4 separate regions of the Homo sapiens genome follow, and all the other regions are reported to be linked to region 1. The links are microRNA targets in miRTarBase. Many come from high-throughput screens and were not tested one by one. Region 1 holds a microRNA gene; each other region holds the end of a gene's coding sequence.
The links. Region 1 holds the annotated microRNA hsa-miR-603 (CACACACUGCAAUUACUUUUGC, at 2,916-2,937, opposite strand). A microRNA usually pairs through its seed, bases 2 to 8, with sites in the 3' UTR of a target mRNA and lowers its output. Matches are read on the target gene's strand: a 7mer-m8 pairs with bases 2 to 8, a 7mer-A1 pairs with bases 2 to 7 and ends in A, and an 8mer does both.

Region 1 (7,125 bases):
CTAGACAGCACACATTAGGTTACTCATCTCTTTCATTCCTTCTGTCTCCCCAGTGGCTAACATCATGCCCAGAACAGCAGAGTTGGTATCCAAATATTCACTGAATAGACAAATAAGACTCAATACAAGGGACTTGCCACTTGCCTAGTGCCCACATTGTGTCTGCCACTTGCCACATGCTTTCGATAGATTATCCCTTATCCACACAACTCTGCAAGCTCTGTATTATTTTTGGACACTTCACAGATGAAGGTCAGTGGGATTAAACAGCTTTCTCTAAGCCACACAGCTCATGAGTAAATTCAAAACCGGGTCTGTGTAATTTCAAAATTCCTGCTTATCTCACTCCAAACACTGCCTCTCCCTGGTCTGCACACAATGGTCTGAGTTCTAGGTTTCCGGCCTCACAGAGTAACTCTCATCCATCTTCTACCTGACAGTCTTTCAGAAATGAAGACTTTCCAGAAGCCAGTGGTCAGTCTGACCCTTTACACCGCCACTGTGGCTGTAATGTGCTTCTCCACAGTGTTTTGGCCTGCTCCAAAGTGGCTCATGCAGACCCTGCCTCTCCTCGCTACTTTCACACACAGCCTAAGAGGTGGCGTCATCACACTCCACAGCATCTCACCCATGACGGCGTCCTCGAGCTGCACAGACTGTGCGTCCGTCCTCAAAGGACAAAAGGCATAGGTCCATAGAGCTGCTGTCCAAAAGCATCACAAAGGGAAGCCAGCAAGCACTGCTTTCTATCACAGGGGAGAAGTTCCCAGCTGATTGCTGGCAGTGCTGCCACTGTCTTTTGCCCGTCAGAGGGTGAGTCAGAGAGAGGACTCAGGAAAACCTACTGTATTAGGCCATTCTCATGCTGCGATTAGGACAAACCTGAGATTGGGTAATTTATAAAGGAAAGAGGTTTAATTGACTCACAGTTCTGCAGGGCTGGGGAGGCCTCAGGAAACTTACAATCATGGTTGAAGGGGAAGCAAACACGTCCTTCTTCACATGGCAGCAGCAAGGAGAAGAATGAGTGCCCAGTGAAAGGGAAAGCCCCTTATAAAACCATCAGCTTTCATGAGAACTCACTCACTATTATGAAAATAGCATGGGGAAAACCGCCCCCATGATTCAATTACCTCCCACCAGGTTCCTCCCACAACATGTGGGGATTATGGGAACTACAATTCAAGATGAGAAGTGGGTGGGTACACAGCCAAACTATATCATCTGCATAGCAGGTGGCCTTGTCTCCCCATTCCTGGGCTCCCCCAGGGCAACCTGTCCCCCATCCCACTCACGAGGCTTCCCTCTAGGAAGCCGCTAAGAAGAGACCTGCCACCCACCTGCTTGCTCCACTTTGAGTGGGAACCACACCAGGGTCAACCTCAGAAACATCTGAAAAGTTGGAAGTAAATTCAGCAGTCTAGCAAAAGCAGTCTTCTGCAACTGAGGAATCCAGGTTGAGCGCTGCCATGACCTGTATTTGAAAAGCTGCCACCTTCCAATCAGGCCAGAGTTAAAGAGCAATTTGAAAAGAGCAAGAATTTCCAAGCTATAAAACTAGGGACATGATTCTAAGAGGATAAAACATTTTAAGATTGGTTTAAAAGCTTTTGAAAAATTTAAGGCCAGGCATGGCAGCTCACATCTATAATCATAGAGCTTTGGGAGGCCGAGGTGGGAGGATTGCTTGAGGTCAGGAATTTGACACCAGCTTGGGCAACACGGGGAGACCCCATCTCTACGATTTTTATTTTTTTTTTAATTAGCTGGACTTGGCTGGGTGTGGTGGCTCATGCCTGTAATCCCAGCACTTTGAGAGGCTGAGGCGGACGGATCACAAGGTCAGGAGTTCCAGACCAGCCTGGCCAATATGGTGAAACCCTGTCTCTACTAAAAATACAAAAATTAGCTGGGCGTAGTAGCACATGCTTGTAGTCCCAGCTACTCAGGAGGCTGAGGCAGGACAATCACTTGAACTTGAGAGACAGAGGTTGCTGTGAGCCGAGATCGCGCCACTGCACTACGGCCTCGGTGACAAAGTGAGATTCCATCTCAGAAAAAAAAAAAAAAAAAGCTGGACTTGATGGCATGTGCCAGTAGTTCCAGCTACTAGGGAGGCTGAGGTGGGAGCATCACTTGAGTCCAGGACTTCAAGGTTACAGGGGCTATGATTGTGCCACTGCACTCCAGCCTGGGTGACAAAGCGAGACCCTGTCTCTTAAAAATTTTTTGTTTTTAAATTCAAACCCAGTTTTCCTCAGGACTCTTATTAACAGCTATCTAAGGAATAGGAAGGGATGCCCTCAAACCGGGCAGAACGAGATGGAATTCTAAGTCATTTTGTCTTTTGCATTTCTGAAAAGACTTTCATTTTTCAAAGGACATCAAAACTGAAATGCCTTATAAATCCCTTTGTGTTTCTGCGTTCTGTTCAATGGCATCAATAAGATGGATGATCAGCAAATGGCATCAAACTCCATTTGTATTCTTATTAGAATAATAACACGTAAAATGATATGAAATGAAACAGCAGATTCCAATGACCTTGTAGCCCAATTCAATTACTATTTCACTAAATAACGACAAAACTGACAGTCCTCAAGCTGCTGAATTTATGAATTAAATTCAACTTCTCTTCTACATTCTGAGCAGGACTGAGTGGAAAAAGAAATGGTCAGTGAGGACTGGGGAGGAGTTTCCTTCTCTTTGCTATTTAATGCAACATCGCCAAGCCCACTGGAGGGAGGGGTATGGAAAGACAGTTTAAAAAGGAATATCAGGACCAGAAGGGAGAACTGATGGCCAGGGCCCTTGCTATAGTTTGCTCCTGCAGATGAGACACTGCTTTGGAAAATTTTATCATTAACCAAACTGCACTGATGCTAAAAGTCAATAAAGCCAAGTATTAAGTTGGAGCAAAAGTAATTGCAGTGTGTGCCATTACTTTTAAATGGGAAGCACTGCAATTACTTTTGCACCAAACCAACAGCATCAATCTTGCCTGCATCTTAAGCAAAGGCTTAATGAGAAAAAAAACATACTTGAGACTACTAAAGCATTATACAGTCAGTCCTCATTACTAGCAGATTCTGTATTTGTAAATATGCCCATCACCTAAAATCTGTTTGTGACCCTCAAATTAATACTCCCAAATGTTTGCAGTCATCATAGACATGGCAGGACAGTGGACAACTGGAGTTTCCCAACAAGCACGTTCCCAGGTGGCGTCTAACTAAACAACACTCTGCTTTTTTGTTTCAGTTTTCATACTGTAAGGAAGCACCCTTTCCACAGTCTTTTTAGTGCCACAAGTTTCGCATTTTTGTGTCTTTTTGTGTCTGTGTGTGCACCTGCATGCGTGTATGTGTGTGTGAGTGACTTCACTATTTAAAATGGTCCAAGCCAGGTGCAGTGGCTCATGCCTGAAATCCCAGCACTTTGGGAGGCTAAGGCAAGAGAATTGCTTTGTGACAGGAGTTCAAGACCAGCCTGGAATATACTAGTCATGTTCATTGGGGAATTAAGACCTCAAAAACATAGCCAGACCCTGCCTCTACAAAAAAATAAAATTAAAAAATTAGCTGGGCATGGTGGCGTGTGCCTGTAGTCCCAGATATTTGGGAGGCTGAGGTGGGAAGATCACTTGAGCCCAGGAGTTTGAGGCTCCAGTGAGTTGTGATTGTGTCACTGCACTCCAGCCTGGTCAAGAGGGCGAGACCCGGCATCTACAAATTTTTTCTTTAAATAAGAAAAGAGAATAAATTTTAAAAATAAGAAATAAAATGAAATGGCCCTTAAGTATGGTGTGGAAGTACTATTTGGCATTCCTAGGCTCAAGAAGGCTGTGATACACCTTACACAAAAAATAAGTGCATTAGATAAGCTTAGTTCAATGCTAATGAATCAATAATATATATTTTAAAAGGTGTCTTCAAACAAAAACACAGGTAAAATAAGGATTTTTGTTGATTGGTTGATAAAAAGGTAACCAAAGACTCACAGGAACCTAACCCTGTATTTCCCCTAGGAAATTCAGTATTAACTAATAAATTCAGGACTCACTAATGCAGTATTTAGGGCAAGTTTATAGAACATCAATACTGTGAATAACAAGAATTGACTGTATTTTCAAACTGCAGTAAAAATGCCATAAGTATGTAAAATAGGACTTGTAGGAAGACAACAAAGTATATTTAGATGTAGCAGGTTCATCTTTTTTACTTTTTTTGCAGATGTGAGAACTTGACAATTTCTAACCACTGGACTTAGAATGGAGAACACAGCCAATCTGGGTGACAGAGCAATATTCCGTCTCAAAAAAAAAAAAAAATTAGCTGGACTTGGTGGCATGCACCAGTAGTTCTAGTTACTTGGGAGGCTGAGGTGGCTGGTCATGAACTCCTGACCTCAAGTCTCCCAAAATGCTGGGATTATAGGTGTGAGCCATTGTGCCTGGCCAGCAATGGCAATATTTTCTTACTACCAACTCTCAGAAAACATACATTATTCTCCATAATTATCCAATAAATTTGGACCCATCTGAAAATAAGCATCAGTCACTTTTCAGTTTATACATGTATGCTATTAGTCATTACTCTGGTAATATGTGAAATGTAAATCATTGCCTTATTACTTACTGGATATGGGCTGTTTTTTGGTTGAGGTATGCGTCTAATTTATTGGTACTACATTAGAAAATGCCCTACACCAAATATCTGCTCTGATTGGACTAAGATCCTACATTTTTATATTTGGGAATATTGCTCAACTTGAGAAAGGCAAGATGTCCCAATCCCTGCAACAGTAACTTGGACTTTTTTTTTTTTTTTGAGACAGAGTCTTGTTCTGTCGCCCAGGCTAGAACACAGTGGCACGATCTCGGCTCACTGCAACCTCCATCTCGTGTGCTCAGGCGATTCTCCAGCCTCAAGCCTCCCGAGTAGCTGTGATTACAGGCATGTGCCACCACACCCGGCTGATATTTGCATTTTTAGTAGAGACAGGGTTTCACTATGTTGGCCAGGCTGGTCTCGAACTCCTGACCTCAGGTGATCCACCCACCTTGGCCTCCCAAAGTGCTTGGATTACAGGCATGAGCCATGGCGTCCAGCCAATAACTTGGACTTCTAATTAAAGATGTGACGTGGGCCAGTTATGCATAGAGGTAAGCCAAGGGCCTCTTATGTGACACCCTCACTGGACTGGGACAGATTCTGCCATGTCATTTACCTTGAGTACTCCAAAAGGAAGAACATAAAAATAATAATGTAATGAAAGTAGCAAGGGTATGTTTAACTTCAAAGAAGATCATTAATACTTAGCCTGGACTGTCTGAGAATATGACTAGAGAAAAGGGAATGAAGGAAAGAGGAGTACTTAATCTATGCTTATTGTTCAAATGCTCTTCTCTGCTCACACTTTGCAAATGTTAATAAGAGTCTGATCTCTTGATAGTAACCATAGGGAAATTTATCAGCCTCTAAACATAATTTCTCCCTTTTCTCTATCCTGAGTCTCCAATGAGTTGGGCAAAATGCAGAGGCATCTCATTCATTCAGAAAATGCCATCTTTTCTCTCTCTCATATATGTAGTGTTGCTAAAATTAACTAAAAAATTAACTAGTTTTAATTTTCTTCTTCTTAAAGGCTTCTGTCCATAACTGTCCAAGGCGCAGAAGGGCACAGACTTTTACGCAATGAGAGTCCCCTGACATTCTGCTGTCTAAGACTTCATTCTCAGAGTGCAAGGACCAGAGAAAGAACTGGGGTGGATGCTATTCCACGTTTGCTCTTTTCATTAAGACTTTTCAAAGAAGACTTTATTCCAACATGCATTTAAAAGAAAAAGAAATGAAGAATTCTTCCTTCAGGCGAATAACTCATAAGGGGAAAAAAACCCTTGAATATGATTTATTTCACAGGGATCATTGAAGAGCACGTGAAAACCGATCTCTGTTGAAATTCCGAAATACTTGTTAATGCCACCTTGAAAGAAGTAAAGAATTTCGAAGTCAGTTATTAAATAAATCCATGACTATTTGAACAGCTATCTCAATTTGGCTGGAATGTGGCTAGAATTCGAGTTATGTACATTGAGTTTGAGTAGAATGTGGCTTTGACAATGAGTCAACCTTAGTATTTTCTTCCCAACAATGATGGAGCGGCTTGGTGAATGCAGAGCTCCCTAGAGTAGCTTTTAGAACTCGTACTCTCCTTTCAACAACAGATTGCTCAGTTGAGAAGTTTTAGAACTGAATGAAAACTCAGGCATCATTTAGTTATTTGTGCAACTTGAATATTTTTTCCAATAAGATAACCAAGGCCAAAAAAATTAAGTGGAAAAAATGTCACACATCGAGTTAGAAAGTAGAACTAATCTAGATTCAAGCACTCCTAGCTACTAGTCCAGAGTTCTTATTACTAACCTGGACCTGCAGTGAGCACCACTGACATCCCTAACTGAGTAGTGACTTCCCTAGTAATCTCCCTTATCTAATTTTACTGCATAAACACATTGCTATCTGTTACAGGAATGGGATCTTAATCATGTAGAGAGAAGGGAAAACAAGGCATGAGGAACCTTTGAACCTTATTGCTAGGCTTCAAGTAGAGAGATGTCAGGTTGTCTCCCGAGTCCACCCTTCCCACCCAATTTCCTACTCTCACGAGCATCCCATGGGCTTTGGTCTCTCTGTGCCTCTTGTAACCAACCTAAAATGGAGATGCATAAAAGTGGCCTTTTATGCCACTTTTAAGTGGGCTATCTTATCTTGTATAAGGCTAGGTCATACTTTTGAATAAAACAATTTTTATTTGAAGAGGCTGGGACCAAGAAATATATATAGCTAGAATGGGCTGCGTACAGGGGGAAAGTTTATTAAAAGGCCTGCGTGTGCACAGTTTCATTATTCTCACTCTTTTTTTTTTTTAAGACAGGGTCTCACTCTGTCACCCAGGCTGAAGTGCAGTGGCACAATCTCGACACACTGCAGCCTCAACCTCCCCAGGCTCAGGTGATCCTTCCACCTCAGCCTCTCCAGTACCTGGGACTACAAGTACATGCCACCACGCCTGGCTAATTATTATAATTTTTTGCAGAGATGGGGTTTTGCCACGTTGCCCACG
Region 2 (7,125 bases), not on the chromosome of region 1:
CTCTTCCTTAGCACAATTTTAATTCAAAAGATCAAATGTATTCAGATGGCAATTTCACTGATGTAAGTGTTGTGGAAATAGAAGCAAATGACAAAAAGCCTTTTCCAGAAGATCTGAAATCATTGGACCTGTTCAAAAAGGAAAAAATTAATACTGAAGGACACAGCAGTGGTATTGGGGGGTCTTCATGCATGTCATCTTCTAGGCCAAGCATTTCTAGCAGTGATGAAAATGAATCTTCACAAAACACTTCGAGCACTGTCCAGTATTCTACCGTGGTACACAGTGGCTACAGACACCAAGTTCCGTCAGTCCAAGTCTTCTCAAGATCCGAGTCTACCCAGCCCTTGTTAGATTCAGAGGAGCGGCCAGAAGATCTACAATTAGTAGATCATGTAGATGGCGGTGATGGTATTTTGCCCAGGCAACAGTACTTCAAACAGAACTGCAGTCAGCATGAATCCAGTCCAGATATTTCACATTTTGAAAGGTCAAAGCAAGTTTCATCAGTCAATGAGGAAGATTTTGTTAGACTTAAACAGCAGATTTCAGATCATATTTCACAATCCTGTGGATCTGGGCAAATGAAAATGTTTCAGGAAGTTTCTGCAGCAGATGCTTTTGGTCCAGGTACTGAGGGACAAGTAGAAAGATTTGAAACAGTTGGCATGGAGGCTGCGACTGATGAAGGCATGCCTAAAAGTTACTTACCACAGACTGTACGGCAAGGCGGCTACATGCCTCAGTGAAGGACTAGTAGTTCCTGCTACAACTTCAGCAGTACCTATAAAGTAAAGCTAAAATGATTTTATCTGTGAATTCAGATTTTAAAAAGTCTTCACTCTCTGAAGATGATCATTTGCCCTTAAGGACAAAAATGAACTGAAGTTTCACATGAGCTATTTCCATTCCAGAATATCTGGGATTCTACTTTAAGCACTACATAAACTGACTTTATCCTCAGACTAGCTGAATGATTTTGTGCTGTTTCAGGATGTTTGCACTGAAGAAAAACAGAAAGCTTATCTGAAATTTATAAAACTTTTTGTTTTGCTACATAGAAAACAGAAGGTATTTGAATAATAAGCAGTGATATGCTTAGTGAGCACAGCTATACTGATTTTGATTAGAATAGTCATCAGAGTGGCTTAGGGACAGTTAATATAAAAGAGGAGCAAGGTGTAGACCATCATCTACTTCTGCTAAAATAACTTAAAAAGAGGTCCATAGGCCATAACTACATGAGCCCAGCTTTTGTAATCTGACAAAAAAATGAGGAGCAGCTTCGTGTATATCAGTGTACACGGTATTCCTTAGGTCCCTTCCATTGGTAGTGATGCTGCGAGTTATTACTGGAGAAAAGGAATTCTAGAGCTTTAACTTGGCAGATTAAAAGTACTCATTTTTTATTCATCAATAATTAGTAATCTCACTAGTTTTCAAAAATTTGCATATTATTGACAACCTCTTTGAAGATGCATTTCACAAACTCAACAGAGTGCCATGATAAGAGCTAGGGATCCCCCAAACTATCTCAAGCATCTAAAAAATTGCCATTTTTAAAGGCTTAAATTGTAGTAGTAAAGGGGAAAACAGGAAGTAGTAGTAAAGGGGAAAAAAAACCAATAAAGCATCTAAAAAATTGGCATGTTAAAAGGCTTAAATTGCTAATGTGTGTATATATATATATATATATACACACACATATCATTGACTTTTCTTAAGACTTCAGAGTACTGGGTAGATGAACACTTTATACAGTATATATCTTCAGCTTAAATTTGTTTTGAGTATTTTTTTTATTTTTAAATAAGTAGGCAAAGATTTAAATTTTTTTATTTTTAGTAAATGTTTGAGGCACACTAAGACAACTTGGGCAATATTTGCCAAAACAAAACAGAACCCCAAAAAATGTACATCTTGTTCTTAGCAAATATCATTATTGTAGAGACACTTAATAAAGAGATGGTATTTTAATGTCTGCAGTTCTGAGGTAGGGTGGAACTTAGTTCTACATTGTGATTTAGGAATTTTTAAAACCTTTTTTCTTCAAGGGAGAAGTGACCCAGGCCTCGAGTTTAGTGCTAAAGCCGCTAGTGTACTTATGCTGTCCCCTAACCACCACGTGCGATATGGAAGCAGATGCTAAATATAGGGGTTTTCTTAGAAAGTAAGAGGAAATTAGCAAGCGTTATTAGTGATTGACTACTGCTATCAAGTGAATTCAAAGGAAACAGGTTTTTATGCCATATTTAAGTTACAGAAACCAGGCATGCTTAGAATAGTTTCTAGAGGTTATTGGAGAATAGAAAGCTAAGAAAACTTGGTATACATTTACAATGGAAATATAATTACACTTTTTACTCTCAGAATATTGTTCACATTAGACTTCCTGTTTATCTTTTATATTCTTGCATTTATATAATGCCTCATCCTTTCAAAGTTCTTTCACATATTATATGATCTTCTTTATGAAAAAAATAGATGTTTCATTCTGATATATTCAGTTTCCCACTTTAGGCAAAAGTAGATTAATAGAATGACGAATTCAAAGTAGATGAGGAAAATCAGGCACAGAGAAGTAAAGGTAGGGATAGACCCAAATTTACACAACAAGATAATGACATCTCCAGCTTTTAAGTTGATCATCAAAGGCTGGGCTGGATTTGTCTTGCTGTATGTGTCAGGAAATTTATACCTATTACATTTTCCATTTTCTCAAAATTTAAGTCACATGACTAATATTTAGCTGCAACTTTCCTCATAACAAATAGTGTCATGAAGAATGTTGTAGTGTGAAGTTTGTACATTTCAGGGTCAGATATACAATATGAACTCTTAATCTACAGGAATGAGAATGGAGGATCATTGAAGGCCATGATATAAACAAATTTGCATGTTGAAGCCTGTATAAAACATGGTACAGTGAGTGAATATACCCCCATCCCCAAGAACACTTTATACATATTAAATGGATATATGATTACTGTGCAAAAATTCATTCTGGAAATGAACATATATTTGAGCACTAATATGTAATGTACACCTGCCCTAAGGAGAAAATAAATTATAAAACTTTTTACATTCAAAATTACTTTCCCAAGCATGTCTTAGAATAATCTATGTGTTGATGCATGTAAATTGTACTTTAGGTAGGCAAAGAAATCTGGTTATTTATGTAAAAACTAGTCTAATAAAGTTAGTTAGTGGCTTTATCACTTTAAATCTTTAGTGTCCAAAAGTGGTGTTTAAAGTAATAGCACATCAGAAAACCTTGTCTGGACAAAACTAGTTCACTCACTGCTTCTGCACCTGCAGTTGCTCCCTTTAGGGTTATAAAATAATGACCCAAATGTTACATGTGTTGATATTATAACTTGTCAGTTACTGATGTCTGTGGTATCCTACCCTCATCTCTGAAAGGGATAATACTGAATAATTATTAGAAAACTATAAAACTTCACACTTTGTACCATTAAAACCTAAAATTTTAATCTTGTCCTTTTTTACTATGGATCAGTCGGCACTCGGGAACAGCAGCAAGGAAAAAAAGCAAATTTCATTCACATGTTCTGTGTTCATACCTCTTCTCTACCTAATTGTTCATTTAAATTTCAGCCTTATTCCTTGATAAGGGATTTTACCACATGAAGTCATCCAGTGACCCTAGCTCTTATTGTGAAGTTAGTGGAGTATACTTAGAAATGTTACAACTTTAAAATGTTACAAAACATTCATTAAAGCTCATATTTAAAGTAGAGCATCTAGTTTGAGAAATAGAAATCAATTATTAAAGATGTCTTTTTTCTACCCATTTAACTAGTTAAAACCATGACATGTAAATGTAGAAGTAGAATAATCATAGAATTCCCTAAAATATTTCTGTTTACTAACATATATTGACCAAGTACATCAAGCAGGAGAGATCTTCCTTCATTCTGTTATAGTCCACATCATTCTAATTTTGCTCAGTTGTTATTAAGAGCATATTCCTAAACCATACACTTTTGTTTCAATAAAGTTTTATTTTGTTGAGATGAATAAAATAACAAAGTTATAAGCTGCATAAGACAAAAGTTCAATTGTTCAAAAAAAATTTACTGGGATAGCTTTCTATTACAGGTATTGTTAGATTATATTGTGCTGATAAGATTACTTTCTAAAAAATTTGTACTTTTCTGTAAATTAAAAGAATATGGAGTCATAAAATGGCAAGTGTTTTAGGATTAGCCTAAAATTGGACATTGTCATTGATTTCAAAGAAGGTATGAACTAGCAGTCTTACAGCCTAATTCTTCTTTGGACTGGTCCTTGGCAGCAGTTCCTTTTCAGACTCGATAAACAGAATTCAGATGATGTAAGTCAAAACAAAACTTTACAAAGCCAAGCGTATTATCTTTTGCATTAACCTATTTTTTTCCATCATACATGCTACTAGTATGTGCATTAGCATGATATTCTCATATACATTGCATTAAAAATTAAAAGGTGGCAGCTCAGGGTGAGCTCTTCTGTTGCTCATTTGTTCCTAAATTTTTAAGGGCTTTTTCTCAGTCAATAGTTTGTACAAACTGGTTAGTTTAACTTCATTACCCATTTCATTAAAGTTGATGGGTCGTGTGATGAGATGCATTTAAGGCCGATAGTGATAGATGTTTTTTTTATTTCTTGAACACAGGCTTTGTCTGAATGATGTTCTTTTATCTCTTGAACACAAGCTTTGAATGATAACTACAGGTTTTAAGTGCTGTTACATTAATACCATAATGTGATGTGTTAGAAACAAAGGGATATTTCAAAGGTAGATATTTGAAAATTCTCTAGTCTCAATATGTATGTGTATTGAATATACTCTAAAAATAAATGTGCAATTTGCTAGTAGGACAATGCAGTGACTGACTAGCATTAGGTATGTTTCTTTTATATCCTAGCTATGTCCCACTTTCTTCTAAGTGCAATCCTTTCATGTTCACTTGCTGTTTTACCCCATCTACTCTAACTTCATTTGGAAGGCTTGTCTAGAGTATAGCATGTATTTTTACCTTTGCAGTGAATTGCATGTGCTAATTGTAACCACAGCTATTTTTATGTTGACATAACTCCAAATGTTATATTAAATGTTCTATTATATATTAGCTCTAATCCCTTAAGTAAATTTTAAGAAATAAATACTTGTTCAAATTTTTTTTCTGTATGTGGTTACTATCATCTGACTATGCATATTTGTAACAGCATTTATCATTAGTGGTGTTAGCTAAATAAGCATCTTAGTGTAAATGAGATGCTTCGTGTGGGTTTTGTGACATTTTAAATGACATAATGGAATGTGATTTAAAAGAAAACCAGTACACTATCTTGGTCTTAATAACATAGAATGGAGATGGCAAATTTATCCACTAGTTTTCCAGATTTACTATTTAATAGCTGAGGTCTGAAATCGTAGCATCCTCCCTCCTAGTGGACATTAAAAAAAAAAAAAAAAAAAAAAACCTACTTGGTTGTCAAGAGCCCAAGTATGGAGGTGCTGCGCCATCTTGTGGCCTGTCTGTGCCCACCCTGCACTCTGCTGGAGTCTCCATCCTTGTTGCAGTGAGACTTGAAGTTCAAGATTGATACATGGCATCCTCCTGCTACTTCTTGAGGTTACTAAGTAGTATATGAAACTAATCAGTCAGCAAGTCCACCTGGAAGGAAAAGAAAATCTCAACTATTAATGTGCCTTCACATTGTGATTTTGTCTAAAAAAATGTAGTGAGTCAAAAAACCCACAAGCCAGCCAACAGTAACTCCTTCACATATATACCAGAGTTTATAGAAATAACATGTCAGCTTTGGGCTATGTGCTCCTTTGTTTAAAATCTTCTATTTGGTTATGGCTTGTATAGGCTCAAGCCTGATTTCTTTAAGGTGTGGTGGCTCATCTTATCCTAATGTGTATGATAGATACAGTCCATCCTGCTTTGGAAAAGATTATGTAACTCCTTGAGAGCATACTCTTTCTCTAGCCCAAAGGCAGTGAGAGAGTTTTCTTGTTCAGGATTGCTTAACTTTCCATTTAAGCTTTTTCTTTTTAAATTAATACAAACTTCTACACTTTCAAAATACGAAATATATTACAACTGCGTATAGGCTCTTCCATACTTAAGTCCAGTGCTTGGGCAAGTTAATGGAGTGAAAGACTACAAGCAAAGAGGAACTGAGGTAGAAAAAGAAGAATGTGTGAAAGCAGCAGGAAGCTCAGCCAACTCGAAAGCAGGGTGAACAGCTTGAGTCCTGTTGCTGCTGATCGGGGTTGGCTCTTGGACAACTTAGTAAGATCATGGAAAGGCTGCTTGGGTTCTCCATAGAAAAGTTCTGTCTCCATCAAGGGAGGAAAATGTACCTTTCAACTCAAAATTCAATATTTGTTTTTAAATATAGCTATTTTCCCCAACCGCTAAAGATTTTCAACAGATACGAAGCCAGAGCTTAGTTTTAGAAACCTGTGGACATTCAAACCTGATTCTTTATTCCCTGTGACTATGGTTATGTCATTTTACATGTCAAAAAAGTGTATCTAGAATTGTCATTTCTTATTTTTGAGCTTTTTTTAGTGAGAATTATCCCCTCACTTAAATGGCTTTTTATTTAAACATCTGTGCATTCTGTATGAAATTGTAGTCTTTCTGGGATAACATGGTGAGCTATATGGTGGTAATCCACACACACAAAAATAAAAGCCAAAAAAAAACCAAAACCCTCAGGTAAAGTATTTCTCTTTCTTCAACTGTCTCATTAGCCCTGGCTGTGGATGGTCTTTCTGAGACAGGCTAGCCAGAGTAATTCAACGGCCACAAGTGGTTTCTCCCCCAGAGTGCTGGTTCAAACTCTGAATGAGACCAGCCTGTTGATTAGAAATCTAATACCTCAGTCCAGGCCTACTTTCCTAGAACAATCTTCACTTAGTAACAGGTCCAAGACACAACTATTAAGTATACATCTGGGTCCCTTCCCCGTAGGAAAAGGTTTTCCCTGCAGTCTTGCCTGTAGTCAGAAGCAGCCTGTTGACTAATGATAGCTTTTAAATGAATTTATAGAAAATTCTTGGAAATAGGCTCTATAAGCTTTATGAGAGGGATAATGCTT
Region 3 (7,125 bases), not on the chromosome of region 1:
CTTCGAGGATACCCCAGAACACATCCTCATAGAACCAGGAATAAACCCAGTCTCCTGGGAAATGACAACCTGCACCCAGTGAAACATAGCAATCATCAGAAGGTTGAGTGTGATCAAAGGTGTCATTCATAGAGAGAGGTAGTGGGGTGGAGGGACAGAGAGACTCTGTGAACAGTAGCTCTGACCACTAAACAGGGGAGACATCACCTTGGTACTCAGTATGGAAAGGAGGGTACACCTACAATACATAGATAACTATAGCTTCAGTGTCTCATGAGTACAAAGGACAAGACAATGACTTATTTTTATCTGAGCAGCTGTAGTAGTGGGTCCCCAGCTGCACAGCTCCTTGTGCCAAGGGGAAATAAAAAATGCTATAATAGCTTCTCTTGTCTCCATTCCCTCTTCCTAGATGAGTTTTTTTTCCCTCTGGAGCACTAGAGCAGGGCTTTCTTCCCCCTTCTGGTACTCTGCCTGCTAGAGCCAGGGGCCAATCGAACACAGACCTGATTGGAGGGGGGGTGGGTAGGCTCTAACCCAAGAAATGCCCTCTACAGGATCCTTCCTGAGGCCAGAAGAGCCATCACAATAGATTTGTTACTTTGCCTTAAGGCTTCATATACTAATAAAACCAACATGTCTTCTCTGCAACTTGTTCCACCTTCCCAAATATATACACACATCATTGATACACATATTACGAATTAGTTCATCATATTCTCTCCAGGGAACACAATAGGTATAAAAAGCTTGGTGAGAGTAATAGCTGGGAGGAGACAGATAGATTTGGTCAATTTCCCATTGTCGATTAGCAATAATGATAATAACAAGGGTGACATTTATTGACCGTATGTGATCTCATCTTACCTCTCAAAAACACTAGTTATGTACCCTGTCTTACAAGATGAGGAAACTGAGCTACAGAGAATTACACAAGTTGCCCAAGGTCACACAGCTAGCAAGTGGATAACCAAAGTTTGTGCACTTAACCTCTATGCTCTATGCTTCTTTGGAGAGAGGAGCAACTGTGATGTTTCTCTTTCATACATCTCCTTGAAACCAGCCTACTCACGGCAGACTTGGCTTATGATAAAAATCTCCTAGGTCTTTTGTTTCCAAAACAAAAATGATAGCATCCAAAGGTAGAGTAGCATCAGCAAAATGGTTTTCTGCAGTTTGTTATCTGGAACCTGGTCTTTATGTCATGAGAACATCATTCTCCAGTCTATCTGCAAATGACCAAAAACGTTGGAATTCACAGTAGTTTTCAGGGTAGAACCTCAAACGAGACATTAAAAATCAGCAACATGGCTGGGCGAGGTGGCTCACGCCTGTAATCCCAGCGCTTTGGGAGGCCGAGGCGGGTGGATCACCTGAGGAGGTCGGGAGTTTGAGATCAGCCTGTCCAATGTGGCAAAACCCTGTCTCTACTAAAAATACAAAACTTAGCAGGGTGTGGTGGCAGGCGCCTGTAATCCCAGCTACTTGGGAGGATGAAGCAGGAAATCACTTGAACCTGGGAGGTGGAGGTTGCAGTGAGCCGGTATCGTGCCACTGCACTCAAGCCTGGGCAACAGAGCAAGACTCCGTCTCAACAAACAAACAAAAAAATCAGCAACACATAACATACCAGTGCTCTAATTCATTGCTGCTGAGTCCTCTTTGAAGCCAAATAAACCTTCCATATTCACATTCCAGAAATGTCCCTGCCTCCTACTCCCATGCTTTGTCTGGAAAAATCCTTCATATCCTTCAAGGCCCAGCTCAAATGTCACCTCCTTTACAAAGTGTTTCCCAGTCCCACAGGCAGAATTAATTGATCCTCCTTTATGCTCCCACAGCACTTTATATTAGCATTGGTGGTATAGCTCTTACCACATTGTTTTAATTAATTGCATAAGTAAGCTCCTTGAGGTCAGAGACTTGTCTTATTCATAAACCCTTTGATTTCCATATCCCCAGCCTAGCACATACCTTATTTCATCAAATCTAAAACTCCATCAATTGTAAGATACACCATTATTTCATTAATTACTAAGAAAAACAAAACACTGACAATTATTCTATGACATACCATCAATTTGAAGATGAGTCCCAAATTCAGGAAATGTCAAAAATTTTAAAAATGTGTTTTAGAAGGAATGAACTGTGGCAATAAGTGCTCACCAAATGTTTATAGAACTGAATTATTAAACCAAGGTGGAACAGATATTTCCAGAGAACTGTGACAGCCCATGCTTCTTAATAAGTAAGAGATTAGAAGTTGGTGATGAATGGTGTGTGACTGCATTGCTGATTTCAAATATTTTACCCAACAGATTAGTTAAAGGGATGAGTGGCCTGATGTGCCATCCCTGTTAAAAAAAAAAACACAAAAAAAAAACAAAAAAAACCACATAAACACCTGCAAGGGCCAAGCCTGCTGGCTCATGTGTGTAATCCCACTCCTTCAGAAGGCTAAGGCACAGGATTGCTTGAGGCCAGGAGTTTGAAGCCAGCCTGGACAGCATAGTGAGACCCTGTCTCTAAAAATATAAAAAATTAGCCAGGCATGGAAGCAAGCCCCTGTAGTCTCAATTACTCAGGAGGCTGAGGTGGGAGGATTGCTTGAGTCCAGGAGGTCCAGGCTGCAGTGAGCTATTTGTGCCACTGCACTCCAGCCTGGGCAACAAGGCCAGCCCGGGCAACAAGGCCAGCCCCCACCTCTAAAACAACAACAACAACAAAGACACCTCCAGATCTCCCATTTAATATACTAGAAAGTAAAGTGATGATATATTGATTCTAGTTCCTTAAACAAGTTCAACCCACTGCTGTGCTCATCTGCCCATGAAGAGGAATAATAGCACAGCTTTCTCCCAGTTTATTCCTGCCCTGCTTTTATTTTGATGCAATCCCTTCCTAATTCCAAACTGTTGGGTCTGTGACCTTAGCTCCCCTTTCTCCTTGGCCCTCTGAAGTTAGTGATTGTATATATTACCTCCCTGGTTAGTGTCTGGACCTGTGCTTTCCATAGGATCTTTCCACAGGGCAGGCCTTGCTGGGTTTTAGTATTTCAGGCTGTCTCACCAAGAATCTGTATTCTAGTTCCAACCTAGAAATAGAAACCCCACCCCCTGCCCTAGACCTAGTCTAAGCCATACACTTAATGTCTCTGGCCCTCCTTCCACCACTCTTTCCCTGCCCCCAAGCACACATACACACTCATGCAAGATAAACCAAATTGTCACTGAAAACCTTAAATGTATGGTTGGTTCATAGAAATACTCCTGGAATAAAAGTTCCTCTTTGAAAACAGAATTATAGGCCGGGCATGGTGGCTCATGCCTGTAATCCCAGCACTTTGGGAGGCTGAGGTGAGCGGATCCCTTGAGCTCAGGAGTTTGAGACCAGCCTGGCCAACATGGCAAAATCCCATCTCTAATAAAAATACAAAAAAAATTAGCTGCCTGTAATCCCAGCTACTCAGGAAGCTGAGGCATGAGAATTGCTTGAACCTGGGAGGCAGAGGGTACAGTGAGCTGAGATCGTGCCACTGTACTCCAGCCTTGGCAACAGAGCTAGGCTCCGTCTCAAAAAAAAAAAAAAAAAAAGAAAATGGAATTAAAATGGAATTATACTAGCCAGACATGGTGGCATATGCCAGCAGCCCAAGCTACTGGGGAGGATCACTTGAGCCCAGCAGTTTGAGTCCAGCCTGGGCAACACAGCAAGAACCTGTCCCCCTCTCTCTCTTAAAAAAAAATTATATTGAAAGGATTGAGCCTAGTAGCTTAATTAATACATTGTAAAATTTTTAAACATGTAAGCAGCTCTGCACATTAGCATTCAGGGAATGAGCGTCTTATGAGGCAAGTACAAAGGGGCAATCTTATAAGGGGGTGATGAAGAAGAAAGTAAAATAGGGCAACGAGTTCCTAGTTTGCTTTCGTACCTAGACCCTTGGTGGGAAGCCAGTGACCACTAAAAACCTGAAAGTCATCTCCCCCTTTAAGGCAGGCTGCCAGTGCCTGGGTTAGGTTTATCAGGACTAAGTCACAGAGCTCCAAAGATTAGCATCTTCCAATTTACGCCAGTCCTCCCAGGCAAGGCAAGACTTGTTCAGCCTCCAGGTCAGCTTAGTCAGTATCCATTCAGTGCCTTCCCCAACCTTAATGAATAAAGAGGAAACAAGAGAAAGGTAGAGAAACAACCTCTATTGATTTATTATTCATAGTATTTGGAGATGTTCAAACTATATAAAGGACCCTGCTTATATTTTCTTTCAAAGGGAGTCTGCAAAGTAGGTCCCCCAAAGTATTAGAATTGAATGCATCCAGGCCGGGTGCGGTGGCTCACGCCTGTAACCCCAGTACTTTGGGAGGTAGAGATGGGTGGATCACGAGATCAGGAGTTCGAGACCAGCCTGGCCGAGATGGTGAAACCCTGTCTCTACTAAATAAATAAATAAATAAATAAATACATAAATACAAAAAATAGCCGGGTGTAGTGGCAGGCGCCCGTAATCCCAGCTACTCGGGAGGCTAAGGCAGGAGAATCGCTTGAACCCGGAAGGCGGAGGTTGCAGTGAGCCGAGATCGCGCCACTGCACTCTAGCCTGAGCTACAGAGCAAGACTCTGTCTCAAACAAAACAAAACAAAAAAAGAATTGAATGCATCCAATGCCATAGGAGTTTTACTTCCTTACAGGTAGAGTTACACTTGCAAATAAAATCATTGAGGTGAAATCACAGAACATTAGAACTGAACAGAATCTCGATGATAGATCTGTTGCCTTGTTTTATAGATGAGGACTTTTAGGGGAAGAAAGTTAACTAGTTACTGGCAGAGCAGGTACTAGAAGCCAAATGTCCTGACTCCCAGTCTAGGGATTTTCCCAACAGGGAAGACACCTAAACCCTTAAAACAATTGTATCTCATCCTCATAGTGTGCAATTACATTTGGTTTATTAGGCTTTAAAACACCATGCAAATAGAGCTCCTATTACAGGATATCTTGATGACTGATACAAACAAATGGTAAAGAGTCAACTGGCCCATCACTTCCACCCAAGGATTGAGGCAGTACATTTTTACCATGTATAAGTGTAAAATAAATTGTCATCACCTGGAGCCCTTACAGGGCTGGATTACTGTAAAAATCAAGCCAGCTCACTAAAAGTTTATCCAGATGACATCCAACTTCACCACAGTCCCCGCCAACTTGTGATGTAAGCCGGGGAGGAAGCTTCGAAATTTTCCCCTGGTCGAGTTTTGGAAGAACTGTGTAAACAATGCCCCTTACTGGTCAACATAAGAAAACACAAAAGCCACTGCTGGCAAGAGCAGGGCTCTAGCAAAAGGTCACAGCAATGTCTCTAAGTCGTCTTGTAGTCTATGGGAACCGTGGCCAGGTCAAAGGAGAAAGCCTGGGGAAAACAGCAGGGGGAAGAAAAAAACTACATTTTTTTCCAGAGATGTTTATATGTACCGAATTAAAGTTAGACCCCCAAAGTAAGCAGATACATTTTTGGTATCCCATTGAGTTTGAACAGGCAGTTATAAGACCCACAGGCATATGTTAGGCTTATACACATAAACAAGATTTTTATTGTTAACATCAATGAACACAGATGGAAAAATATTCACGTGCCAAAGACATATTTGCTTACGAGATCACAAAATTGCTGATTTGTATTCATAAATGATTTGGTGAATCATTATGTGTTTTTGAGTGAATATATGTGTGTGTGTACACACACACACACACACACACACACACACTCTGATATGAGATTTCCAAAGCTTCGTTTCCATTTGTATTCCTGCAATAACTTCATCAGAAAGAGAAAGCAGAAGCTTGGAAACATGTATATGTTTTATAGATACTGTGATTTACTGAAAATGAAAATAACATCCTATTACATATATTTTAAGTAATACGCAAAGAAAATACAATAAACACTGATTTGGCTCAATGACTTGCCTACTGGAAGGATTTTTTTAAGTTTTAAAAAAAATCCCCAGTAAAGTGGTCAAGGATACTTGATGATGTTACCATTGAAGAAGCATAGTATTTTCTAAGCAACTCCAAGGCTCTGTTATTTCTTGCTTGTAGGGTCTTCTCAGTTCTCAGTTCATTCTTGATGACACTGAGCTCTCCGCGGATCTTTGCCATTTCTAATTCATAATATGATTTCATTTCTTCTTTTAGGAGCACATTTCCAACCTCGGTTTGATGCTTTAACTTCCTAACAGCTTCTTTTAAATTTCTGTTCTCTAGGTTCAATTTGTGGATGACTTCTTTGGCTTGCTGGAGCTGTTCACTTAAGTTTTTTACATTTGTTGCTTTTTCAGACAGGTCATTTCTTAAAGCTTGAAGTTCATAGTCACTTTTTGAAGCATCCGTCTCTGTTTCTTGAAAATTTAGGGGTTTTGTGAATATTTCTTTTTTGTAGTGCAAAAGTTCTTTTTCAGCATTTTCAAATTCCTCTTCTATTTTTCTGTATTTCATATTAAGTTCTTCCAGTTCTTCATTCAAAAGATTCAGGCAAAGTTTTGGAGACATTCTTTCCATAAATTTCTTTCTTATGTCTTGTCTTAGTAGAGCTGGTAAGTTATCTGTACTGCAGGTAGAGTTATCTTCTGTGCTGTTAAAGCTTTCTTCTGTTGTAACATCCACATTAGATGATTCATAGGATGCAGAATTTGTGTCTGTTTCATTCTTTGAAATGTTTCTCTTGTTCTCTCTTAAATTTTGTTCTTGTTCTATTTCATTTAGTTGGAAAATATATTTTTTCCTCTTAAATTTACTTTCTTCCTGAAACTTTCTACTGGACAAATTATAAATTTCTTCCATTCCCTTGCTGCTATCTGCAGTCGTTTGTTCAGAAGAAGATTCAGGCTCAGAAGTCTCTTCTAGAACATCTTGTGCACTAAAAAAAGGAGTAAACATATTCTCCTTCCAGTGTTTTCTTCTAGCATCCATTTCTCCAGGCACCTCTTCCAATATCTGAAAAACAAAATTTAAAACCAAGGCAGGCACATTATTTACACTAGTAGCTAATATAGTAGAAAGAAATAAAAATGCTGGCTCACGGGTGAAGAATCTAAACATTTGAGGGCTGGCTCTCTCTCTAACTCACT
Region 4 (7,125 bases), not on the chromosome of region 1:
AGAACCGCTTGAACCCAGAAGGCAGAGGTTGTGATGAGCCAAGATCGAACCATAGTACTCCAGCCTGGGCAACAAGAGTGAAACTGTCTCAAAAAAAAAAAAAAGCCCTGAAGTCGTACTTGACCTTGCTCTTTCTCCCATACCACACATCTAGCCTTCGGCACAACATACCTTCAGAACATATCCAGAATCCAGACACTTTTTTCTAACTCTTCCCTCTATCACCTGGTTCAGACCTCCTCCATCTCTGGCCTGCTTTACTGGAATAGCTTCCAACTCACCTTTCTGCTTCTGTCTATGCCCCATGGTCATCTGTTCTCAACACAGCAGCCAGAGTAAGTCTTAAAAATGTAAGCGCAATCATGTCACTGCTCTGCTCAGAATCCTCCAGTGGGTCCCCAGCTCAGACTAAACGCCAAAGTCCGCACAGTGGCCTACAAGCCTCTGTTCCCTCTCTGCCTTACTCATTGTTCCCCAGGCCTCCTGGTCTCCTTTGTTGTTCCCTCAAAGTTCTACCTGAGAACCTTTGTACTTTTGTTGTTCCCTCTGCCTGGAATGTTCTTCCCTATGGACATGATTCATTCTTTCACTCTTTTCAGGTCTCTGCTCAAATACCACATCCTCAGTGTGATCTTGTTCCTTGACTGCTCCAGGCATGCTCCTGCATCAGGATCTATCTGCCTGGAGCTCTTCCCCTAGGTATCCCTCACTGCTCAAACTTCCCCATTGAGAAGCCTCCCCGGACCCCCACTACCATTGTCCTCAGCACTCCCCGCCTCCCTCACTCTGCTTTTTCCCCACAGCATTTGCAACCATCTGCTCTGTATTCCCTCCCCTGTGCCTCTTACCCAGCAGATGTCAGCACATGTGGACGCCACACAGCAGGGACTCTGCTCTTTCGTTCAGTTCACTGACATATCCCCAGGACCTAAACAGTGCTTGACATATAGTAGATACCCAGTAAATATGTGGTGAGTGAAATAATTTTTCATAGAAAGTCTGGAAGGACATATACTAGTATTTTAAAATCCCCTCTGGGGTTATGAACATGGATGATGAATGTATTCTTTTTGCATAGCTGTATTTTATAATTTTCTTTATAATGATGTGTTTATGTCATGCCAATTGTATAAACATGATCTTATATATTTGTGATTTTTTTTCTCCCTCCCAGATAGGAGCATGCTGCTATGTGGAATGTTCAGCTTTAACCCAGAAGGGATTGAAGACTGTTTTTGATGAGGCTATCATAGCCATTTTAACTCCAAAGAAACACACTGTAAAAAAAAGAATAGGATCAAGATGTATAAACTGTTGTTTAATTACGTGAGAAACATCTTCAGTGGCCAAGGAAACTGTCCATTTCTCTCAGAAAGCAAATGAAATGCTACAGCTATACCCAGACCTTTTATAGGTAATGAAGCAGTTCAAAACTTGAAAGAAAACAAAACCTGTCCTCAGAATTCTATAAAGTGTATTAAGAATGTTCCTTAAAGGTTTAAGAAGCAGTAAGCAGCATCTGAAGCCACAATCTATTATAAATACTTTATTTCAACTAGAAGGTACAATCTCTCAGGGGTTTCATAGTTTAAAAAGCTACAATCACATCATGTTGTAACTACGTAAAAAACAGAGCTGTAAATGGAACTGCTTGGCTTTGACCATACACATTTCTGCCCAGCCCTTACAGAATCTGCACAAAGAAATATCTCCCTTTGCTCCAGTTAATTGTTCTTGTATGTAAGTTGCTTTCTATTCCAGTATATCCAGAGTGGTGAAATAACAAGGCCAGCCACGTAGCCAAAGGTCGCTCCAAGCGTACAGGAGATGGGCCATACCTGAGGAGAGAATGTATGAGATCAAAAAAGAACAAATGTTTTATTATTACTTGAGCACAAGTGTAACCTAAATATTTCTATATTAAAGCTTAATGTGCTTTCTTAAAGAATGCCAAAAGTGTAATAAGGTCATAACTGCATTTATCATGAACACTAAAAATGTACACATTTTAGTTAATGTGCATTAAACTGTAACAAGGCTTCTGGCAATTGTAGATTTAGTTTGACGCTCCCCAAAGTGCATGAGACACATGCTAAAATTACAAATTAAAATTTTGGGTCAGACTTTGCCATAATGATAGACTCAATTTAGCTCTCTGAACTAGTTGGTAATTTTTTTTTTTTAATTCCCACTTTGGCTGTGTACATCAAATGAAATGAGAAGTGTGTATGCTGACCAAACCACAAGAAACTTTCTTTAAGTTGTGTTAAAGAGGAAAGACCTAGAATCCAAGCGTGTTACATGAAAATTGTAACAGAGCAGCTGCTTCCACCTTTCAGATATAGATGTTGGAACCACAGCAGAAGTTATAGAGCGACAACTTATATACACACCTAGAATGTAAGTTAAACAAAATACCGGCTTCCAGAGACCCCTTTTCTCCAGCCATATTACATCAGGCTAGAAGTAATTAATGTTGATTTATTTCATCTACAAGCAGTTGGTCCCTAAGTGAAAGGCTCTGCTTGAAAAAAAAAAGAAAAAAAAGTTGGAGGAAAATTTTCATGTTCTTCTGTGAAGCTTATTTGGTACACTGGAGCCATTTCTAATCTTTCTCTGGGGGGAACAGGCCACAGAACTGTGTTAGAGGTGAACCATCTTAATTACTAGTTCTATTACCTAATTCAGCTTCCTTGTTTGGTCTGCTGTGGATCTGCCTTATTGCATATGCCATGCATCAGATAATGGATGCATCAGATAATGGTGTTAGACAAAGCTTCATTGTGAACAACCTAATGCATTTTAGAGAAACAATCTCATCACATTTTTTCTAGCCTTTCCTACATTTAAACTTGCTGTTGCCCAAATTATAATTTTTTAAATGTCTTTGGTGGGCTTCTGTTAATTCACATGACTTGAGCTTATAGCTATGTCTACTGCACAGATTGGGTAATGGAACACTAAACTTTTATACTTGAAAATGACAGCCTTAAATGCTCATATCAGTCACAAATCTAGGATGTACTGTCTTGTTGTATGTGAGCTTTGTAGAGATTTTTAAAAATATAAGCATCACCTTCCCATTGAAGAGTGGAGAGAGTCTACTGGATGACTGGCCAGGAACTTTCTCTCTGAATCGGACATTTGGATGTCTTCTTTCTTCCAAGAAATGGTGGTTCACATTAAAGTATCATGGCCTTATGTATGCTCAAATGGAATCTTATGTAACTTTCTTATTTAATTTTGGTCTGCTTATTTTTAGATAAAATTGAAAGGAATTGTATAAATCAATTAACATATTAGCTGAGTTGTCCAACACATGGTATAAACGAATTACAACAGTAAACTATTACACATTTCCAACTTGCCTTTGGGGATTTATGAGGATTTTTTTTGGTGGGGGGAGGGGGCTCCAATTCATATCTCTGAAACCCTTCACACTTGGTTTACTAATTCAAAGTTAGAAGTCTAGAATTTGCCCTGCCCTAACAGAAACAGATTAGGAATTTGTCTACACAAACTGGTGTCACCTGTTTCTTGACTGGGATTTGGTTTCCTCATTATAAATATGGGAGGTAGAACAGAGATCTCCAACGTCTCTCCCATTTATCACAGTAATTTTCTTATTCACAGTAATCATTGTTGGATGTTACCTTTTCAGCTTCACATTCTCAAGATGGTAAAAATCATGTATATAGATTATCAGAACTCTAAGCAAAGATGACTGTCACATCTGAAGCTGAGGTGCCTTAGGTACTCTACTGACCTTGATGGGTTTGGAGTTCCCCATTGCTTATCAAGAGCTTTTTAATTGCTTTGGTTCTTTAGTTTTTCTTTTTGCAAAAATCCTTCCTGTCACTTTAACTAAAAACCAAAGATTTGTTTTCTATTGATAAGCAGACTAGAGAAAAACTGCCTTATTTTCAGAAGCATGTCTTCATTCAAAGCTTAGGCTTCAATAGAAATTCAGACTAATCACTGAAATGACTATTTCAAACTAGTGAAATATCTGGGAAATAAACTGCTTCAAAAATATTTTACTGACATGAATTTTGCTAGTGAATACAAATACACTGCCTCAAATAAGGCCATGTATGAATGAACTTACAAGATATTTGAGTTAATCAGTGTTTGCATATAGAGAATTAGTTCTAAAGTTCTTAAAAATAAATTTAGGGGCTCCCTGAAATTTTATTTAATACTTTGCTAACTTACACTCTTGTTTTATCTCCACAGGTACATTTTAGGTTAGCTCATGGTGAATTCTATTTACAATAAGTGGAGCTTGGATTAATGGGTTTTGTTATGAATTATCTTAGTGACTTTAGACACTGTTTCCATTTGATTTTTAACTATTTAAAATACCAAATTAAATACCAGTTTGTTGGTTGTTACTTTTAAATGATTGTTACTTTAACAGTGTCCCTTCTTAACACATGGGGTTACAAATAAAATACTATGCATAGTTTACTATCTACGTAAAGCACTGAACTTTTTACCTTAGTAGTTTTTATTTATTACCCTATGTAAACATTTAGGATAATACTCTTTCCTCTATTTATGCTGAGAGTCTACTAATCATTGGCAAAGTATGAGTCCCTATACTCTGTTAAAAAAAGCTCACTGTTAAAGTATAGGGAGAATAGTAATCCCTCATGAATCCCAGCTAGATTCCAATTTGGGTTACTAAATTGTATTTTAATCATTTTGTAATTTCAGTATGGCTCTTTGTTCTCAAACACATACATACCACCACGCACATTCTTTTAAACAGCTGCCACACCTCACCTCCAACAGAATGCCAAAAATGAAATGTTAAAAAATTTTGTCTAATGAAGGGTTACGGCTTGGAACACTTGGTTATTCATGTTATGTAAATCAAGAAGTGCATGCCATCAGCAAATTAAAATGTGGACTGGCTTTGAAGACTGTTAATGATGGGTCAGGCTTTGTACTTACAAGAGTACCTCCTTGGCTTTCCTGAAATAAGCATTTCTTAATCGTAACCCTGTCATTTTTTTAAAAGAGAATTTCTTTAAGGGCCGTTTTCATGATTTTTGAAGATCAAAATAGATTATCAAAATAGGGAACAGCAAAAGGAGGGAGGCTGCCCACTAAGAACTATTCCTCAAGCAAGTTTCCTACTGATTTTCTTATAATTATTCTAAAAATTTTTAAACTACACTATGGCAACAGAATTCATTTGTAAATCCTAGCTTAATCAGGTATTTTCATAATTAGATCCTAAGGTTTTCCTTTAAAACTATTTCCTTATCTCACATACAGACATGTTTCTATTCAACGTTCTTCATGCCACAAATAGGATTTTTTAAAAAAGTGATATCTATTAAATACATAATTCAGCTGCACTGCTATAAAGATTTCTCCAAATTATGGTAATCTGAGATGGCTTTATATAATTATTTTGTTTAAAGAAAATAGGAAACTTAGAACAAAGACATTCATGTAAAGGAAGTCATTCACAAGTGTTTGCCACCAAAATGACAAGGGCCCAAGCACTGGAGGCCAGCCTGGGCAAGATAGTGAGAGTTTTTTATAAATTTACATTTTTTTAGCCAGTAAATAGAAGAAACAACCTATGGTGTATAATCAAATATATTACAACTCAAGTGGGTAAAATTATTAAAATTACCAGGAAGAAGAAAAATCTAATTAAAAAATAAGTGGTACATCAGATGTTAAGTGACCTTAGCCAGCTCATTTTAACATCTGAGCCTCAGTTTCCCCTACAGAACAGGGACAGAAGTACCTACTATACTTAAAATGCAGGGCTGAAGTAATCTCTTAAAATTTGTCATGAAAGCTATAAAGTACCACGTACCAGTATTCTGTATATTACATGTTTTAACTTGAAAAAATTAAACTTACACAAACAGTATTTCTTTGGTCACTGACACTACTATGTAATAAGTAGAACCGGCAGTTTAGAACGAATAGTTCATGAGTAATATACTGTGTGGTAGGAAGTGGTAGGAACTATTCTTTACCCTTGCAAAGCAATCATCTTTTTTTTTTTTGAGACGGACTCTCGCTCTGTCGCCCAGGCTGGAGTGCAGTGGCACAATCTCGGCTCACTGCAAGCTCCGCCTCCCAGGTTCACGCTATTCTCCTGCCTCAGCCTCCCGAGTAGCTGGGACTACAGGTGCCTGCCACCACGTCCAGCTAATTTTTTTGTATTTTTAGTAGAGACAGGGTTTCAATGTGTTAGCCAGGATGGTCTCGATCTCCTGACCTCGTGATCCGTCTGCCTCAGCCTCCCAAAGTGCTGGGATTACAGGCGTGAGCCACCGCGCCCAGCCATAAAGCAATCATCTTTAATACATGCTGTTCTTCATGTGAAATGTCTGTTACAAGAGCAAATTCAGGAGCTGTACAACATACTGGCATTACGTTAACCATCTGTATCCTTACCTCAGAAGGTTACCCTGCTGCTAGCTGTCATTTTTCATAAATTCGAAGAAACAAAATTTTAAGTACAGATAGTGGTTTTAAACTAATCATTGGTAGGCATTTGTGTTAATTTTTAAAGGCTCATATGAATGACTCCATTCATTCGAAACTATTTGTGGAGCCCCTACCTTAACCCAGCAGTTAAAGGTGTAAACTAAGATTAAATTATTTAATTTTGGATACATTTTAGTATAAATTCTTAAAAATGTGTTCCAATATAATAAATATTACTTATAATTTTGGGGGAGATTTACACTGTCACAGATAACATGGAGAAACTGACCTATCTGCAAATCAGAACACCTACAGACATTTAGAACAACTCACAACCATTAGGATTACTGTCTCTCTCGAGATAAAAAGGAAGATAAAATCCAGTTCTCAATCTCTCATGAGCTACTTTTCAATATGTTTGTTTTGTTAATTGTGCTTATCACAAATTTGCATTTGCATGACTGAGAGAGTTCATCTTTCAAAGCCTGCTGACCTACTGGTTATAAATAATCATTTATATTCTCCTCCAAAATTGGTCTTGAACAGTATGTTTTTCCAGATATTCCTAAAGTAAATGTTATTGTCTGATACAGGAATACATGCACAAATGAATCTACTCATTGGGATACATTTCTCTAGTTAAAAATCTACACTCATCCA

Region 2: the mRNA of IL6ST is a reported target of hsa-miR-603. Seed matches in the 3' UTR shown: 7mer-A1 at 1,673-1,679.
Region 3: the mRNA of CCDC160 is a reported target of hsa-miR-603. Seed matches in the 3' UTR shown: 7mer-m8 at 5,758-5,764 and 7mer-A1 at 5,733-5,739.
Region 4: miRTarBase lists RHOQ as a target of hsa-miR-603. Seed matches in the 3' UTR shown: 8mer at 2,222-2,229.

What each region holds. Positions count from the first base shown.
Region 1 is chr10:24,271,557-24,278,681 of GRCh38, reverse strand. It overlaps MIR603 (microRNA 603), which reads right to left and starts at 2,997; the gene lies at 2,901-2,997. The region is part of intron 2 of KIAA1217; the gene reads right to left.
Region 2 is chr5:55,934,706-55,941,830 of GRCh38, reverse strand. It overlaps IL6ST (interleukin 6 cytokine family signal transducer), which reads left to right. Exons shown (of 17, transcript NM_002184.4): 17 at 12-6,736. The coding sequence ends at 749. Among named protein-coding and RNA genes, the nearest start is that of IL6ST, 57 kb to the left of the region's middle.
Region 3 is chrX:134,244,643-134,251,767 of GRCh38, reverse strand. It overlaps CCDC160 (coiled-coil domain containing 160), which reads right to left. Exons shown (of 3, transcript NM_001353453.3): 3 at 4,926-6,991. The coding sequence starts at 6,967. The coding sequence ends at 5,990. Among named protein-coding and RNA genes, the nearest start is that of CCDC160, 11 kb to the right of the region's middle. RefSeq lists a silencer at 4,281-4,480.
Region 4 is chr2:46,579,754-46,586,878 of GRCh38, forward strand. It overlaps RHOQ (ras homolog family member Q), which reads left to right. Exons shown (of 5, transcript NM_012249.4): 5 at 1,175-4,935. The coding sequence ends at 1,330. PIGF (phosphatidylinositol glycan anchor biosynthesis class F) reads right to left here. Exons shown (of 6, transcript NM_002643.4): 6 at 1,184-1,838. The coding sequence ends at 1,725. RHOQ-AS1 (RHOQ antisense RNA 1) reads right to left here and starts at 485. Exons shown (of 2, transcript NR_104182.1): 1 at 282-485. RefSeq lists a silencer at 6,234-6,417.